Linked DNA regions of Homo sapiens: region 1 is linked to region 2. Evidence: fine-mapped expression QTL. A gene starts in region 2. The other region holds a variant in brackets. All regions are shown on one strand. Distances are between the middles of the regions.

Region 1 (9,149 bases), 92 kb before region 2:
TCATTTCATTCCACTAATATAATTCTGATACACATTAATTATATTTCATATTCGTTTCATACAATATTTTGGTGATATATTTAATATTATCGCTTACTAAAATAAAAATCTATGTTAACAAGAGATAATGACTGAGAAAGTTGTTAACAAGCACAATAAAATGTTTTCAAAAAATCAAGTAGGCCAGGCACAGTGGCTCACGCCTGTAATCCCAGCACTTCGGGAGGCCAAGGCGGGAGGATCACTTGAAGTCAGGAGTTTGAGATCAGCCTGGCCAACGGGGTGAACCCTGTCTCTACTAAAAATACAAAAATTAGCCAGGTGTAGTGGCGGGTGCCTGTAATCTCAGCTACTCCGGAGGCTGAGGCAGGAGAAGCGCTTGAACCCGGGAGGCAGACGTTGCAGTGAGCCAAGATTGCGCCACTGCACTCCAGCCTGGGAGTCTCACAGAGTGAGACTCCATCTCATTTTAAAAAACAAACAAACAAAAAGCCTTAACTTTAATAACAAAAAAAAGCCCCCAAACTTACCAGCCCAAACTGCACATTTCTCTCTTGCCTACTATCAGATGTAGGGGGTGAAAGGCAGAGCTTGGGGTCAGCGGAAGAAGAAGGTTCTTGGGATGTGGAAGGGGGTGCGGTGGAGCAATGTGAAGGAGGAAGCACAGCACTGTGGCTACCTGTTGGCAGCATGGCGGGCATACGTAGTGGCTCAGGGACTGAAGGGAGAACACCTGGAAACCAGCAACAGTGGGGGCAAGACTGCACCACTCTGACAGTCTGCACAAAAGGTCTAGCACAAGAGGCTGGTAAACACAGCCAGTAGTCATCAACTGGCATTATGGCCAAGGTTCCTCCTTCAATACAAAGCACTGTGGGGGAAAAACAATTTGGTAATAATAGCCATTCGATCAAAGGATCAATTATGCTTCAAGTAACTAGTGTGACTCCCTACTGGGTCTCAAAGAGCATGACTTCCTGGTTTAAGAGTTAACTAATAAATCCAGTTAGATGTTCTGCTGGAAAAATAACATACAATCATTTTTTATCTCAACCTCATTTTATCTGCATGAAATTAGCAAAGATGGTGACAGAACACAATAACTGGCTGTCTAAATGAAAACCATGGTTCTAGGAATCCCCCTCCTCCAACATACCTACTAGAACAAATACCAGAAAATGTATCCTCATGCTGAAAAGTCACATATTCCCTTCACCAATGTTTACAATCCGTTCCTTACTGAAATTCTGTATGTAACCTGGCTTCTCCTGGTTCAAGCTTCAAGTCAAATTGTATCAACCAGTGCACAGATTTTACCAAAAAAGCTCTGAATGAACCTCACCATTTTTAAGCACTGTAGGTAAAATTTACCAATTGGCAAGACACAGGCAATTGAAGCATTCAGTTGACCTTAGAATGAAACATTATGAGACTGAGTGAGGTGGCTCATGCCTGTAATCCCAGCACTTTGGGAGGCCGAAGCGGGAGGGCTGCCTGAGCTCAGGAGTTCACAATCAGCCTGGGCAACACGGTGAAACCCCGTCTCTACCAAAATACAAAAAAAATTAGCCGGGCGTGGAGGCGTGCACCTGTAGTCCCAGCTATTCGGGAGGCTGAGGCAGGAGAACTGCTTGAACCCAGGAGGCGGAGATTGCAGTGAGCCAAGATCATGGCACTGCACTCCAGCCTGGGTGACAGAGCAAGACTCCGTCTCAAAAAAAAAAAAAAAAAGAAACATTGTTTTTAAAATTTTAACCAAACTTAAAATTGAAAGTGCTATCATTCAGTTCCATTTAAGTGGTACTTCACCTGAAATATAAATAAGACAGACAGTAGAAAACAGCTGCCCCAAACAGTAGAAGGTAGCACAGAGATGGGATAAGGAAAGGAGAAAAATTCCCCCATCCTCCTCCAACTACAACTGCTTGAAATTATGTCCGCTGACTGTGGTGGCTGCTACAGAGGTTCTCAAACTCTTTCATCTCAGGACTCCTTTACAATCTTAAACAGAGCTTTAAAATTGAGACTCCAAAGAGCTTGTTAATGTGGGTTTTATCTATTTACTATATTAGAAATTAAAACTAAGAAGAAACTTAAAATATTCATTAACAAATTAAAAATAATATATTTATTAAATGTTAACGTATTTTTATTTTAAAAAATTTTTTAATTAGAAGAATGGCACTGTTTTGTATCTTTGCGATTCTCTTTAATGTCTGACAACAAAAGACAGCTCATATCTGTTTCTCCATTCAATCTGTTGCCACATCACCTGTCATATAACCTCTGGAAAACTTCACAGTTTACATGCAAGAGAATTAAGAGTGAAAAGGGCAGCGAGGCGTGGTGGCTCACGCCTGTAATCCCAGCACTTTGAGAGGCCAAGGCGGGTGGATCATGAGGTCTGGAGATCGAGACCATCCTGGCTAACACGGTGAAACCCCGTCTCTACTACAAATATAAAAAATTAGCTGGGCGTGGTGGCAGGCGCCTGTAGTCCCAGCTACTCGAGAGGCTGAGGCAGGAGAATGGCGTGAACCCGGGAGGCGGAGCTCACAGTGAGCCAAGATCATGCCACTGCACTCCAGCCTGGGCTACAGAGTGAGACTCCATCTCAAAAAAAAAAAAAAGAAAGAAAAGGGCAAACAGCATCTTACTATTATGAAAATAATTCTGACCTTAAAGTATGCCAAAAGGGCCTCATACACTTTGAGAACCAATGCTATAGAATATGAGATGACCTGCAGGCAACTGTCACTTGTTGGCAAGGCTTACACATTAGATAGCCTTCCTTTTCATCCACCTGCCTGTCATAGTAATCCCTTTCCCCAGACCCACTCCTAGTAAAACACTGCTCCAGGCTCCCCCAAAAAGGGCACAAAACAGAAAGCAATTCAACTGTGGCAGTCTTTTAAAATTGGAATAAGCAATCCTGACTTTTCCCCTAAACATAGTTTCTATCCTTTGCCAGATTTGTACTTTTATTTCCCCTACCATTATAGATGGCTCTGATGCAGAAATAACCTGCGTTAAAATACTTGCTCTACCACTCACAAGGCCAGGTGACTTCGACCAATCACCTAATCCTTAACGAAGCTAACAGGTTCCTGACCTCATCAAATGGCTGAGTTTAAGAAAGATAATGCATGTTAGCATAGTGGCTGGTAGGAATTAATCCCTTTAAGTTACTAATTCTCCATCTCCTGAAGAAGGGAAATTGCCTGGAACTAAGTCAAGAAGTGCTGGAATGTATTTACACTGGTGTCCTCCGCTGAGCTTCCCTGCGTCAATCTCCACTATTTTGAAATGCCCTCTTCCTAACAAATCTTGATCCAGTATATAGACAGACTAGCATAATGTTATTTCTATTCAGTATACAAACGTATTAGCAAGAAACAAGCAGATTTGCAGTTTGATTCTTAACCTCTATAAATTTTTAATCTCCTTTTTTCTTCAAGGTAAGCAGTCAGTTTAATTTCAAAATTTCAAAAATGATGAGGCAATCCATCATCCTCATCATTTTACTGGTTGGTGTCATGCCAACCAGTAAAAATAGAAACAGAAGTGGTCAACTTTATATTTTAACAGCTATTAACTTTAGAGAAGACCAAAAAAATTACCTCTCCTAAGCCTCCAGATTCTCTATTAATGCTTTTAAATCATCACTGTCAAATACTCCTAGTAAAGACATGAGACATTCAACAGAGCAACTGAATGTCAGTAAAGTACTGGGGCGGGATCTTTTTGCTGTCATTAAGAGTACTTTTTCTTCCAACAGCAGATCTCTGCAAAACCCAAGGAACTTGGTTGGTAGAGACATGCTGGAAATGAGGATGAGTGAGATCAAATGGTGCTTCCATGACTGCTACTATAAATCAAAGGATACTAGACACTAGCAAGGGTCAGCGCTCTTTCATATGTGAAAGGAGTAACTAATTTAGAAAATAATTTGCCAAGTTTCATGAGAAAGTTCTATTTTTGCTAAAACCTCTACTCTATTATTGGTGAAGAACCTCATCTCCATACATGAAAAATCCTTCCTCTCAGTCTTGGTGTCATTTGTTGAGTCTTTGGATTTCCCTTTCCTGTACCACTAGACTTACTAGGAAAGTTTGCCACTGCTATGCATAACAGATACCTAAACATTTGCCAAAGTATTGTTTAATGGCAAAATTCCACGACTACCAAAAATTAAGCTCCTATAGGGATCAAGGGGAAGAAAGCTTATGGGTATGCTTACTGCACCTTCTCAAGTTACTTTCTTAATGACCCAAACTTTTGGCAATAATCTCCAAATAAGGTTGTAATTTATGCAACGGAAAGAAAAAAGCCTTTATGGCTTTACACTAAGTGAAGAACATCCAGATAAACTAACATGTTTTAGTTTCAGCAAGGTCAGTTTCCTGGCATTTAAAGCCCTATTAAGAAATGCAAAATTTGGCTCACACTTGTAATCCCAGCATTTCCGGAGGCCGAGGCGGGTGGATCACTTGGGGCCAGGTGTTCGAGACCAGCCTGGCTACCATGGCGAAACTCTGTTCCTACTAAAAATACAAGTATTTGCTGGGTGTGATGGCACACACCTGTAATCCCGGCTACTTGGGAGGCTGAGGCACAAGAATCGCCTGAACCCCGCAGGCAGAGGTTGCAGTGGGCCGAGATTGCACCACTGCACCCCAGCCTGGGCAAGAGTGATACTCTGTCTCGAGGGGGAAAAAAAAAGATAGAAATGCAAAATTAAAGTGGGACAAATATTCAAAGTTGTTACATGATGAAAAAGCGTAGATTGTGAAGGACATTCTATGTACTAGCAAAGACCACAAAGGGACACTAGGGGCCAGAGAAGAAATTCAGTAGATAAAAACTACAACTGGATAGCAAGATCTTGTGTTCAATGTATAATAGTTTGACAAAAACATCTTCTCAGGATATTAATAGATGAAGTTATTCAATTGTTGCCCAGCTTATCAAATATAATAGTTTTTCCATAAATCTAATGGTCCTCTCGTGCCTAACTTCTAACAATTCCATGCATTTGACCTTGCTATTCTCTTGCCTAGAATGCCTTTTCCTTCTTCGTGTTTCTACTCACCTTTCACCCTTAGCTGATACCTCAACTACTACAGCAGAGACACTACTTTTGCTGAGTACAATAACAGAAATTGTTTAGAATATGGATACTCACTCATAAATCCTAAGTCTTCCTTGCAATGACTTTTTTAGTCTTAATGTTGCATATTCACTGCCTTACAGACAGGTTTTTTTTTTTAACTTTTGTTTTTTACCCACTCTTTGCCCAACCTGGTTAGGAACCCTTTCTGGGATTCTCTTGGTTCCCTATGACAGAGAAAGCAACGCATCACAGAGCATCATCACTGATTTTCGTAAATTATTATGTTTTGCAAATTATCAAATATCCCTTAATTTGGTATCCAAAACTTGTTTTTATTAATAGTCTTAAAGGGCATTCAATAAAACGTTCCCATAAATATGCCAGTGAATTTGTTTTAATAACAGAAGATCATGACCTTATAAATTACTAAGAAAAATATGCTGCACAGTAAAACAATGTCTGATGTTCTTGAAAATACTTTTTCACTTTACAAGAGATACAATATGTGCTTCAGTTTACATTTTACTCTCCATCTAACTTCAGAAAAAAAACACAAAAAGGATGCTATACTAAGAAATCTTTAGTATGAGGAGTATGTAATCATAGCCTCAGAAATTTCAAAAGCTGCCACAATGTTTTTCCACTCCTGTAAAGTCAAAGATATAACTCCCTGTTTCCTGCCATGGCAACTGGAATCATTTCCCTCACCCAT[T/C]TGGTTAACATTCATCGGCTCTAATATTGGCAGCCTGTCTTCATCAAGCCTTATTCTTGCAAAACCATCTCTTACAATAAAAGAAACATAAAATATATTCTCCACAGTACGAGAAAAAGAGTTTGGATCAATCACAAACTCAAAATAGGACACAGGAGTATCAGGATACTTTCGAAAGTAGGTTTGCAACAATCCCAAAATCCTTTCTACGTTTTTTTCTGTCGCTTCTGGATAACTACTCAGGTCCAACTTCTGCAACTTTGTAGGCATGTTGCCATTTTCTTCCATCTTGCGAACTTTTTTCTGGTGTTCAAGTCGGGGCTTTGGTGCAGAACGTTCTAGCTTGAATGAACCAAAAACAAAATGGAATGTCTCAGCTTTTACCATCCAGGATGTTGCTTCCTTTTCTATTGCCTTCCAGAAGGAAAGAGCTATGCTATCATCACAATCACTCAACTTGTCAGGATCGCCTTCCATCCAATTCAGACCCACGAACAGAAACAGAAAGTCACAAAATGCTAACTGATTAAAGAAGTTCATATCTGAGTTTAACTGCTTTGCCTTTTCTTTACCCAAATCAGAAGCCATAACAAGAAACCGGGCGTCGAGGGCTGCTTCTCTGGTTCGGCTCACGCCATCAAAGAGGACGTTGGCTTCCTCCAGAGCCTCGGTTAAGGAGTTGTTCGCCGAGCTCACGATGTCCTCCCGGTTCTGCCGCACGCAGTACATGAGCTGCCGGTACTGCCTGCGGATGCTGCGGCACTTCTCCTCGTCAGCGGTGAGCTCCAGGAGCTTTGGGTCTACGTCGGCCTCCCCAGAGCTGAGGTCGTCGGAGCAGCCCGCGGCCCTCACTGACACATCCATCTTCATCAGCGCTCCCTCCGCCGCCGCCTACTTCGCCGCGTACTCGCTACCGGGGATGATCACGAGCTGCTCCTCTCCTTTCTCTTCGTCTCCCTTCCGGGAAGCTTTTTCAACCAACATGCCGGCCACGGGTATCTCTGAGGTAACGGCCCTCCCAGCGTGTGGAAAGTGGCGGCAGTTAGAGCCGAGGACGCCCGCCCATGCGCACTAGCGGCCCGGCCCGGCGCGACCCGCCCCCAGCACGCTCCGCGGGAAGACAGCCCCGCCCCGGCCCGGCCCAGCCACAAGCCGAGGCGCTCGCTCATAGACCAGCGCGGCGCTCCCAACACGCGCAATGATGGGCCCTGACCTCACACGCGACTAATGCCCGCTCAGGGGACAGCTATTCTTTTTCAAAGCGTTTACCGACTGGATCACCTCACTTTAAAAAAAAACACTTTTGGACAACTTTACACAAAACTATTGAGGAGACTAAAGGTCCTGCGCTTTAAAACGCTCGCTGCCATCATATACTGCAGTGAGGTCGACCTGGTTTTGGTTTTTTGTGAACTAAATCTGGCTGGACTGTAAACCGTCGGTAAGGCCAAGGACCGTGAAAAGCAGAAACTCCATTAAGCAGGCTAAACTCTCAGTTCTTTTGCAAGGTGGTGTTTGGACTCATTATACAAATGTAAATCGGGTTAATTACTTTCACATGTCCTCTTAAAAACCAAGCCCCCTCCAATACCCATCCTGAGTATCTGTGGGATCGGGGGAGCCTCCAATATCCGTGCTAACCCCTGCAGGAAACTGGGTGCTGGGCACGGGCATTACTCAGGTGAACTTTGGTTCTCCACTACCCAGGAGTGGAAGAATAGAATGGGTAGAGATCTCTGCAAAAGAGCTATTTACTTGGAAGCTTGCCAACAGCTAAAGGCCACCGACACTGAATGGGTAGTAACTCTGAACCCTAAAAGGTGGGCAAAGCTATGAAAATTTCAGATACAGTCTAAGGATATGAAAGCTTAATCTGTAAACTGGGTGAGTAATCTGCGTGGGAAAATTTACCCATTGGATTTAATGGGGTCACTGGAAACTCAAGTGCAGTTAAAGACGTGACTCCTTATCTGTCTCACCAGCAGCAAATAGCAAAGTATACATAACAATGGGAATGGCCGGGCGCGGTGGCTCACGCCTGCAATCCCAGCACTTTGGGAGGCCGAGGCGGGCGGATCACGAGGTCAGGAGATCGAGACCATCTTGGCTAACCCGGTGAAACCCCGTCTCTACTAAAACTACAAAAAATTAGCCGGGCGCGGTGGCAGGCGCCTATAGTCCCAGCTACTCGGTAGGCTGAGGCAGAAGAATGGCGTGAACCCAGGAGGCGGAGTTTGCAGTGAGCCGAGATCGGGCCACTGCACTCCAGCCTGGGCTATAGAGCGAGACTCCGTCTCAAAAAAAAAAAAAAAAAAAAAGGGAATGAATACATCTGGTTTTTAAAGAGAACATGCACACAAACAACCCATGAGCATCAACAGCTTTTCAAACCTGCAACAGGTACACCTTAAAAAAAAAAAGACACCCACAATTGCACCTGTCCAATTGCCAGTTTCATAGCACCAGGAAGTAAATTAGCCCTACCTTCCTTTATGCATATAGACTTGTTCTATTTCTTTAGCATTAGCAGAAAGTTTTTTGTAAATGTATAAACAGCAAAATCTAGTAGTATTAAGTTACTCCAAAATCCTTATATTACCATTTGCTCCCAATTATTTTATTAACTAGGGGTAATTCAGGGAGATACGTGCATTTTTCAAAACACCATGCATTACGGTTAGTTGTACATATATATGATCCTACCCTATTAGATTGTTGGCTTCTCAAAAACAAAAGCTGCGTTTTAGATCTTCCAAACATAGCTGTTTTTACACGGAGATGCACTTATGTACTGAATGTATAACTTAAAATAGATTTAAAACTATCCCAGCATCTACTGCAAGTTATTTGGCAGCAAAGATTTAAGTTCACAGATTCGTGGAATTAATCCTACACACTGAAAGGAAAAGTTGACTGCTCTTCAGAAAAAGTTCTTATCCCTCTTCTAAAATAAAGGAAAAATGAAAGAAAGGTAAGTTGAGACCCAGGATCATTCAAGGATCGTATCTGTCCCTAGTCTGGCCAATTACAAACTAGTATTTGAACTTGTTTTAAATCTTAGGTGAAAATACAGTTAAGAATTCCAAGACCCAAATCCAAAAAAGTCTGCTTTTACAGTGAACGATATTCTTAGGAGCTTCTCACATCCACTTTAAATTCAACAAAAGCAGCCGGGCACGGTGGCTCACGCCTGTAATCCCAGCACTTTGGGAGGCTGAGGCGGGCGGATCACGAGGTCAGGAGATCAAGACCGTCCTGGCTAACACGGTGAAACCCCGTCTCTACTAAAAATACAAAAAATTAGCCGGGCGTGGTTGCAGGCGC
Region 2 (8,562 bases):
TGTAAAAAAATTAGCTGGGCTTGGTGGCACACTTTACCACACAGGAGGCTGAGGTGGGAGGATTGTTTAAGACCAGGCGGTTGAGGCTGCAATGAGCTATGATTGGGCCACTGCACTCCAGCCTGGGCAACAGAGCAAGACCCTATTTCAAAAAAAAAAAGAAAGAAAAGAAAAAGAAAAATACCTAGTATAAAGCCGTGCTTTAATAGATTAATGCTTAAAATATGCCTAAATTTAAGTTTCAAAAAGTAAATGTAAATAGGTGAAATTCTTCTATGCTGTTAGAAATCAGAGTAGTGTTTGCCCTTGGTATGGGGGTAAGAGACATTAGAGGGGCTCCTGGGGTACTGGAAACGTTTATTTCCTCAGCTGAGTGTGGGCTGCATGCATATACTTCGTTTGTAAAAATTTAGCAAGTTGTATTATAACGAGTGAGCTTTTCTGTATTATAAAATAGTTCAGGCCGGGCGTGGTGGCTCAAGCCTGTAATCCCAGCACTTTGGGAGGCTGAGGCGGGAAGATCACGAGGTCAAGAGTTCAAGACCAGCCTGGCCAACATGGTGAAACCCCGTCACTACTAAAAATACAAAGATTAGCTGGGCATGGTGGCGGGCCTGTAATCCCAGCTATTTGGGAGACTGAGGGAGGAGAATTGCTTGAACCCAGGAGGCGGAGATTGTGGTGAGCCAAGATCATGCCACGGCACTCCAGCCTGGCGATAGAGCAAGACTCCATCTCGGGAAAAAAAAAATGTGGTGTGTGTGTGTATATATATTCCATTTTGTGTGTGTGTGTGTGTATATATGTGTGTGTGTATGTACATATACACACACACAATGGAATATTATTCAGCCTTAAAAAGTAAGGAAATCCTGTCGCATGCTACAATACAGATGAAACTCGAAGACAAGTATGCTAAGTGAAACAAGCCAGTCACAAAAAGACAGACACTGTATGATACCAACTTATATAAGCAATCTAAAGTAGCCAAATTTCACAGAAACAGAAAGTAGAATGATGGATACCAGGGGCTGGGGGAAACGGCAAATGAAAAGTTAACGAGTTGGCATGGAGTTTCAGATTTGCAAGATGAAAAAGTTCAGGGGATCTGCTTCACAACAATGTGAATATACTTAATACTGCTGAAAACTGTATACTTAAAAACGGTTAGGGTCAGCTGGGTGCAGTGGCTCATGCCTGTAATCCCAGCACTTTGGGGAGCTGAGGTGGGCAGATCACCTGAGGTCAGGAGTTCAAGACCAGCCTGACCAACATGGTGAAAACCTGTCTCTATTAAAAATACAAAATTAGCCAGGCGTGGTGGTGCATGCCTGTAATCCCAGCTACTTGGGAGGCTGAGGCAGGAGAATCGCTTCAACCTGGGAGGTGGAGGCTGAGGTGAGCCAAGATGGCGCCATTGCACCCCAGCCTGGGCAACGAGAGCGAAACTAAAAAAAAAAAAAAAACAAAATTGTTAAGATGGTAAATTTTTTTTTTTTAACCACACACAAAAAGAATGTAGCTAAAGAAAAACAGTAAATAAATGGAAGGACATAGATATCAAGAAGATCCTGAGGATGGCACATGAAACGTCAATTTGGGATGCACCTGCTCAAACTCCTTCATTGTACTAATGGCCACAAATTAGCTGCCTGACCTGGACCTTGCCTGACCTTGCTCCTACCCTGTTCCTTTATTCTTCCCTTCCCCTAATCCAAGTCCTTAACTCCAGCAGGATATACAGGCCTCCCTATCTCTAGCATGGTCTCACCGGCTGCTTCCCCTAACAAGAATGTTCTCCCTTCAGACACCTCTACCAAATCCTACCTCATCTATGGGAGCTGCCATCCCCACTTGGCTGTTTTTACCACTCCTTTTAGCCCTTCACCATATGCTGCCTTGTAACTAAACTGTAAGCCTTTGAAAGAGGCAGATCCTACAGCATTTAATAATTCTAGCCATTGGGCAAGGCACTTTTTGGAGCCTCACTTTCTCAAGCCTATAAAAAAGGTGGAGGCGGCCATATGACTATGACCAGGGCTTTTGAGTCAGATGGCCTCAACTGGTATCCCAGCTCTTCCACTTACTAGTTGTGTGCTTTGGGTAAGTTTTATAACCTCTTTGCTTCTCAGTTTCTTCATCTGTATAATGGGGTTTATGATAAATCTCTCAGTATGGCTGGAAACATGAACCAAGATTATTACCCATGTCTAGTGCTTCCAAAGGCCCCTCTCATGTCAGTGCTTAGTAACCACTAGCCATTATTGGCATTATCCGGACAATGGAGAAGAGACTGGGAGCTTTCTCTTCTGGAAGAACAAGTGAAAGGATAAAGCGGGATGATGGTGGGAGAAATGTGCCCAAAATTCAAGGGGATGGAGAAAGGGGGCCGGGAAGGCGTGTCGGACAAGATTCTCGATGGAGGAGGATGCTGGGAGTGGGCCGGGGGCTTCTGGAGAGGTGAAGGGGCACCCCCGGACTCGGCTGTCGGTTTGGTCGCTTCCCCCGTAACCTTTCATTGGAAACACGGTGCTTGTAGGAAGAGGACGCCCTAACGGGCCCTGAGCGAAATCAGGCGGGTCGCTGCCGAGATCTCGGTTCGGTTTCCGACAGGTTTCCGGGCAGGTCCTCGCGGCGGGCCCGCTCCTCCTTCCACCTCCCACCTCTCTCACAGCCAGCGGGCGGGGCAGCCCTCGGCCGGCCGCCGGCCTCCGTCTCCCGGGGTGACCTGGGGGAGCGTTTCTGGGGTCTCCAGCGTGGCGCGCGGTCAGTCACTGACTCCAGTGAGGGGCTTCAAGGCCAGGGCTCCGGGGCACTTTATCCCCAACCCCGGCCGGAAGGCCCGCTTCGGCCCGTCGACCTGGGGACCAGGCCTTCGCCCTCGGTCGTACCTGACCTACGGCGGCCATCGCCGTTCTTGCCTTTCGTCTGCAGCTCCGTTGGGGCGGCCGCCGCCACTGCCTTGCCCTCGGCGCAGCCCATGTCGCACAAGGCCCTGTGGGAACTGACGGAGCCGAAGGACGCCTGGCGGAGGCCGCGAGCCCCCTGCCGGCCGCGGGTCGGAGAACGCGGTGGGCGGGGCGCTCGGTGACAACAGCGAAGTCATAGCCCGTGTATCTTCTTCAAGGTCGTGAATTTTTTTTTTTTAACAGGAAAGAACGGTCGCTAAAGGTAAATTGGAAAATGCAGAAATGGAAAGGAGAAAAGAGCGCACCACCCAAAATCCTTATCCTTCGGCTGGGCGCGGTGGCTTACACCTGTGCACTTTGGGAGGCCGAGGTGGGAGGATTGATCGCTTGAGCCCAGGAGTTTGAGACCATCCTGGGCAATGTAGAGAAACCCTGTTTCTACAAAAAATAATTTTAAAAAATTTATCCTTCACACAAACTACTTTTGCTGTGTTTACTATTTCTTTCCAGTTTTTCCCCTCTATGCATAGTTTTGCATCCAGCATTTCACTTAATACTAGTATTTTCCATACTATCACATAGTCTTGTAAGCCTCCCAGATAACCACCTGGCTTCCACTGTCACTTCAGTCTTTGCCTCTTTGACCGTAGATGAAGCATACACTGAACATCGTAGTTTCTTTTTAATACACTTTATTTTTTAGAGCAGTCTTTTTTTTTTTTTTTTTTTGAGACGGAGTCTCACTCTGTCACCCAGGCTGGAGTGCAGTGGCGCGATCTCAGCCCACTGCAACCTCTGCCTCCCAAGTTCAAGCGATTCTCCTGCCTCAGCCTCCCGAGTAGCTGGGACTACAGGCGTGTGCCACCATGCCCAGCTAATTTTTTGTATTTTTAGTAGAGACGGGGTTTCACCGTGTTAGGCAGGATGGTCTCGATCTCCTGACCTTGTGATCCGCCCGCCTCGGCCTCCCAAAGTGCTGGGATTACAGGCGTCAGCCACTGCGCCTGGCCTTAGAGCAGTCTTAAGTTCACAGCAAAAAGACCATCCTATTTGAACAGAAATCTGATCACGCCCCCCTCAACTCTACCCCCACCCTTTACTTTACTCTATTTTATTTTTACCAGCACTGAGAGCCTTCTAACTTACCCTATATTCTCTGTCACCTGCTCCCACTCCCTCCGCCAGCCTCCCCACGACACCCTGCCCATGTAAACGCTGCCAAAATAGAACCTTTGCATTTTTTTCTTGTATCTTGGCCTTCAGCTTGGGCCAGGTGGCCTCCCCCACCTCTTGAAGGAAAGCAGGGAAGAAGCGGGAAAATATTAATTTGAATAATTATAATAATGTAATAGTCCATCCACTAGAGCTACTGGACGATTACATAGCCTATTATTAGATGTTTAGTTTGTTTTTTATTTTTAAAAATTATGAATAAGGCTGCAGGGAACATCTTTGTGTTTATAGTTTTAAGGCTGTCATTACACGTTGCCAAAATTGCTTTTTTGGAACTGTGGTTCCCATTTGAACTCCTACTAGTAATGAATGAGAGTGATTTTTTTTAACACCAAACCACATTGCGGCACATCAGGTGCACAGTCACTGTTCTCTATCAGTGCAGTGCTCTGTTTTTCCTTCTTTCAATTAACTAACATATGGTAAGCATCCAACTTATGCCTGGCTTTGTTTAGGGTTACAAGGTGACTCAAATTCCCTGGTCTCAAGGAACTTCCACCCCAGCTGAGATTTAGTGAACTTGTCTGGTCACCAGATGCGTGGCAATTGTGTGGGCCCTTTGTTTTCATTTGGGTTTGTGGACAAGCTTATATCCTGCTTCTCTGGAGAGCAGCCCAGAGTCAAAATGCTCTTGGAAAACACTGGGTGTTTATTTGCTTAAACACAGAAAACAAATAAAACTGAACCAAAGGCTTTTTTTTTTTTTTTTTTTGGAGATGGAGTCTCGCTCTGTTGCCCAGACTGGAGTGCAGTGGCACGATCTCGGCTCACTGCAAGCTCCGCCTCCCGGGTTCACGCTATTCTTCTGCCTCAGCCTCCCTAGTAGCTGGGACTACAGGCGTCCACCACCACGCTAATTTTTTTTGGTATTTTTAGTAGAGACGGGGTTTCACCATGTTAGCCAGGATGTTCTCAATCTCCTGACCTTGTGATCCACCCACCTCAGCCTCCCAAAGTGCTGGGATTACAGGCATGAGCCACCGTGCCCGGCCACCAAAGGCTTTTAATAACAGACATTGCACAAAGCTAAAGTAAATCTCTCTCTCTCTCTTTCTTTTTTTTTTTTTTTTTTTGAGATGGAGTTTTGCTCTTGTTGCCCAAGCTAGAGTGCAATGGCACAATCTTGGCTCACTGCAACCTCCACCTCCCAGGTTCAAGTGATTCTCCTGCCTCAGCCTCCCAAGTAGCTGGGATTACAGGCATCAGCCACCATGCCTGCCTAATTTTTTGTATTTAGTAGAAAAAGGGTATCACCATGTTGGTCAATCTGGTATCAAACTCCTGACCTCAGGTGATCCACCTGCATCAGTCTCCCAAAGTGCTCGTATTACAAGTGTGAGCCACCGTGCCCGGCCCTAAAGTAAATCCTAATAACAACTTCATCCAAGTGTTTGGTGTCTGTAGTAACTAATGCAACTAAGCCAGGACCCTTTAAAAGCAAAGTTCCCTCCCTCTGCGAGCCAGGTCTACAGTTCCTTGGTTCCACTGGAATGACTGTTTCAGAGATTTTTTTTTTAAATATGCTATTCAATTTATGTTAAAATTACCATTTTATCATCAAAATTCCAACTGTGGCTGTCATGTATTTTTCTCTATTTAGTACATGTATTTAACTAAGATGATGGCTTTCCTGTTATTTTAAACACCTAGGCAAAAGTATCTGAGAGTCATGTGCCTACCTGTGTCATCCTATCATATTTATAATAGCCAACAATTTGTTGGGTACTTACGGCGAGCCAGGCATCCTGCTAAGTCCTTTACTGGCATAAAAGTATGCTTATCTCATGTTTTTCCTGCAAGAGCCACATTTAGAAGGGTCTCTTATTATTCCTATTTTACAGAGGAGAATCCTGATGCTTAGGGGATTAATTGCACAGGATCACACAGCTTGATACTGAAATCCAGGTTTCCTAATTTCCAAGCCTCTGCTCTTAACCACTAACCTCTCTTATTACTATGACATCACACTCCACTAATTCCTATACATGAAAAGAATGTTTCCCTGGGAACTTTGTTTTGAGATTTAATTTTTTTAATTTTTTTTTTTTTTATGAGATGGAGTCTCACTATGTCGCCCAGGCTGGAGTGCAGTGGTGAGATCTTGGCTCACTGCAAGCTCCTCCCGGGTTCACGCCATTCTCCTGCCTCAGCCTCCTGAGTAGCTGGGACTACAGGCGCCCGCCACCACACCCAGCTAATTTTTTTTTATTTTTAGTAGAGACGGGTTTCACCGTGTTAGCCAGGATGGTCTCGATCTCCTGACCTCGTGATCCCCCCGCCTTGGCCTCCCAAAGTGCTGGGATTACAGGCTTGAGCCATCGCACCCGGCCTAATTTTTTTTTTTTTTTTGAGATGGAGTCTCACTCTGTCACCCAGGCTGGAGTGCAGTGGTGCCGTCTTGGCTCACTGCAACCTCCACCTCCCGGGTTCAAGCAGTTCTCCTGCCTAGCCTCCTGAGTAGCTGGGACTATAGGTGCACGCCACCACACCTGGCTACTTTTTTGTATTTTTAGTAGAGATAGGGTTTCACCATGTTGGCCAGGCTGGTCTTGAACTCCTGACCTTAGGTGATCCACCCGCCTTGGCCTCCCAAAGTGGCGTGAGCCACTGCACCTGGCCATTGAGTTTTAATTTAATTATACATGATTTGTTTAAAGAGCATCAAAAGGGAGGGCATCTCTTTTCTTTTTTTGAGACAGAGTCTCACTCTGTCGCCCAGGCTGGAGTGCAGAGGCACACTTTCAGCTCACTGCAACCTCCATCTCCCGGGTTCAAGCAATTCTCCTGCCTCAGCCTCCTGAGTAGCTAGGATTACAGGTGCATGCCACCACACCCAGCTAATTTTTTATATTTTTGGTAGAGACGGGGTTTCATCATGTTGGCCAGGCTGGTCTCAAACTCCTGACCTCAGATGATCCACCCACCTCGGCCTCCCAAAGTGCTGGGATTACAGGCGTGAGCCACCATGCCTGGGGGAGGGCATCTCTTTTCTACCCAATAATAATTAATTCCCAGTCCTCATCTTACTTGGCCTATCCATGACATATGACCCATGTTTCATAATCTCCTCCTTAGAATGATTGGCTTCCAGGGTACCACACTAACCTAGATTTTCTCCTATTGTGCTGGATGCCCCTACTCAGTCTCCTTTGCTGGTTCCTCCTCAATTTTCCTGGCACTTAATATTGAAGTACTAAAGCTCAGTCCTCGAACTTCTCCCCTCCTCTCTCTCTTATAATCTGCATTTGCTTCTCTGGTGATCTCCTTTAGTCTCAGAGCTTTAAATGTCATCTATCTGCTGACAACTCCCAAACTTATGTCTCCTGCTGCAGCCACTTTCATTAACTCCAGGCTCACATATTCACCTGGCACCTGGCATCTCCACTTGAGTGTCTAATAAACATCTCAAGCCTAAAATGTCCAAGCAGATTGTCCCCTCCCAAACCTATTCCCACGGTCTTCCCCATCTCAGAAAATGGCAACTCCATTCTTCCACTTGCTCAGGCCAAAAACCTTGGCGTCATCCTTGATTCTTCTCTCTCATACTCCACCTTCAATTGGCCGGCAAGTCCTGTCCACTCTACCTTCAAATGATATTTAAAAATGAATAAATTGGCCGGGAGCGGTGGCTCACGCCTGTAATCCCAGCTCTTTGGGAGGCCGAGGCAGGTGGATCACGAAGTCAGATCGAGACCATCCTGGCTAACATGGTGAAATCCCCTCTCTACTAAAAAAATACAAAAAAATTAGCCAGGCGTGGTGGCAGGCGCCTGTAGTCCCAGCTACTCGGGAGGCTGAGGCAGGAGAATGGCGTGAACCCGGGGGGCGGAGCTTGCAGTGAGCCGAGATCCCGCTACTGCACTCCAGCCTGGGCGGCAGAGCGAGACTCCGTCTTAAATAAATAAATAAATAAATAAATAAATAAATAAATAAATTCCCTACATCCAGCTTATAGGAAAAAGAAGATAAAGGAACAAGTTAAACAACACTATGGGGATGTAAATGGCAAAATCCAGAATCTGCCAATTTCATCCACAAATACAGTAATTGCAAGGGAAGAAAAAGAGGAAGTGGGAACTTATTGATGAAAAGAGACTTAGGATATATGAAGTACCCAGAGTTGTCAAATTCGCAAAGACAGAAGGTAGAATAGTGGTTGCCAGGGATTTGGGGGAGGGGGAAATTAGGAGTTTAATTTAATGGGTACAGAGTTTTAATTTGGTAAGATAGAAGTAGTTCTGGAGACGGATGGTGTGATGGTTCCACACAGTGTAAATGTGCTTAATGCCACTAAGCTGTATACTTTAAAATGCTTAAAATTGTCAATTTCTCATGTATATTTTACTACAATATAAAGAGGGAGAGAGAGAGAGAGACAGGAGACACATCAACCAAATGCAGTGCACTTTGGGTTCTGATG

The links. PIP is the estimated chance that this variant, and not a neighbour inherited with it, causes the effect.
Region 1: its variant is fine-mapped to the expression of TXNRD1 in whole blood (INTERVAL, PIP 0.98).

The regions. Positions count from the first base shown.
Region 1 is chr12:104,301,481-104,310,629 of GRCh38, reverse strand. All of the region lies in intron 4 of TXNRD1 (thioredoxin reductase 1), which reads right to left. EID3 (EP300 interacting inhibitor of differentiation 3) reads right to left here and starts at 6,891. Exons shown (of 1, transcript NM_001008394.3): 1 at 5,425-6,891. The coding sequence starts at 6,695. The coding sequence ends at 5,694. RefSeq lists enhancers at 6,454-6,513, 6,544-6,783, 6,091-6,963, 8,755-8,924 and a silencer at 6,824-7,053. The variant T/C (reference allele first, on the strand shown) is at 5,826.
Region 2 is chr12:104,210,223-104,218,784 of GRCh38, reverse strand. It overlaps TXNRD1 (thioredoxin reductase 1), which reads right to left and starts at 3,006. Exons shown (of 17, transcript NM_001093771.3): 1 at 2,892-3,006. The coding sequence starts at 2,982. RefSeq lists enhancers at 1,998-2,613, 2,614-3,230 and a silencer at 3,054-3,143.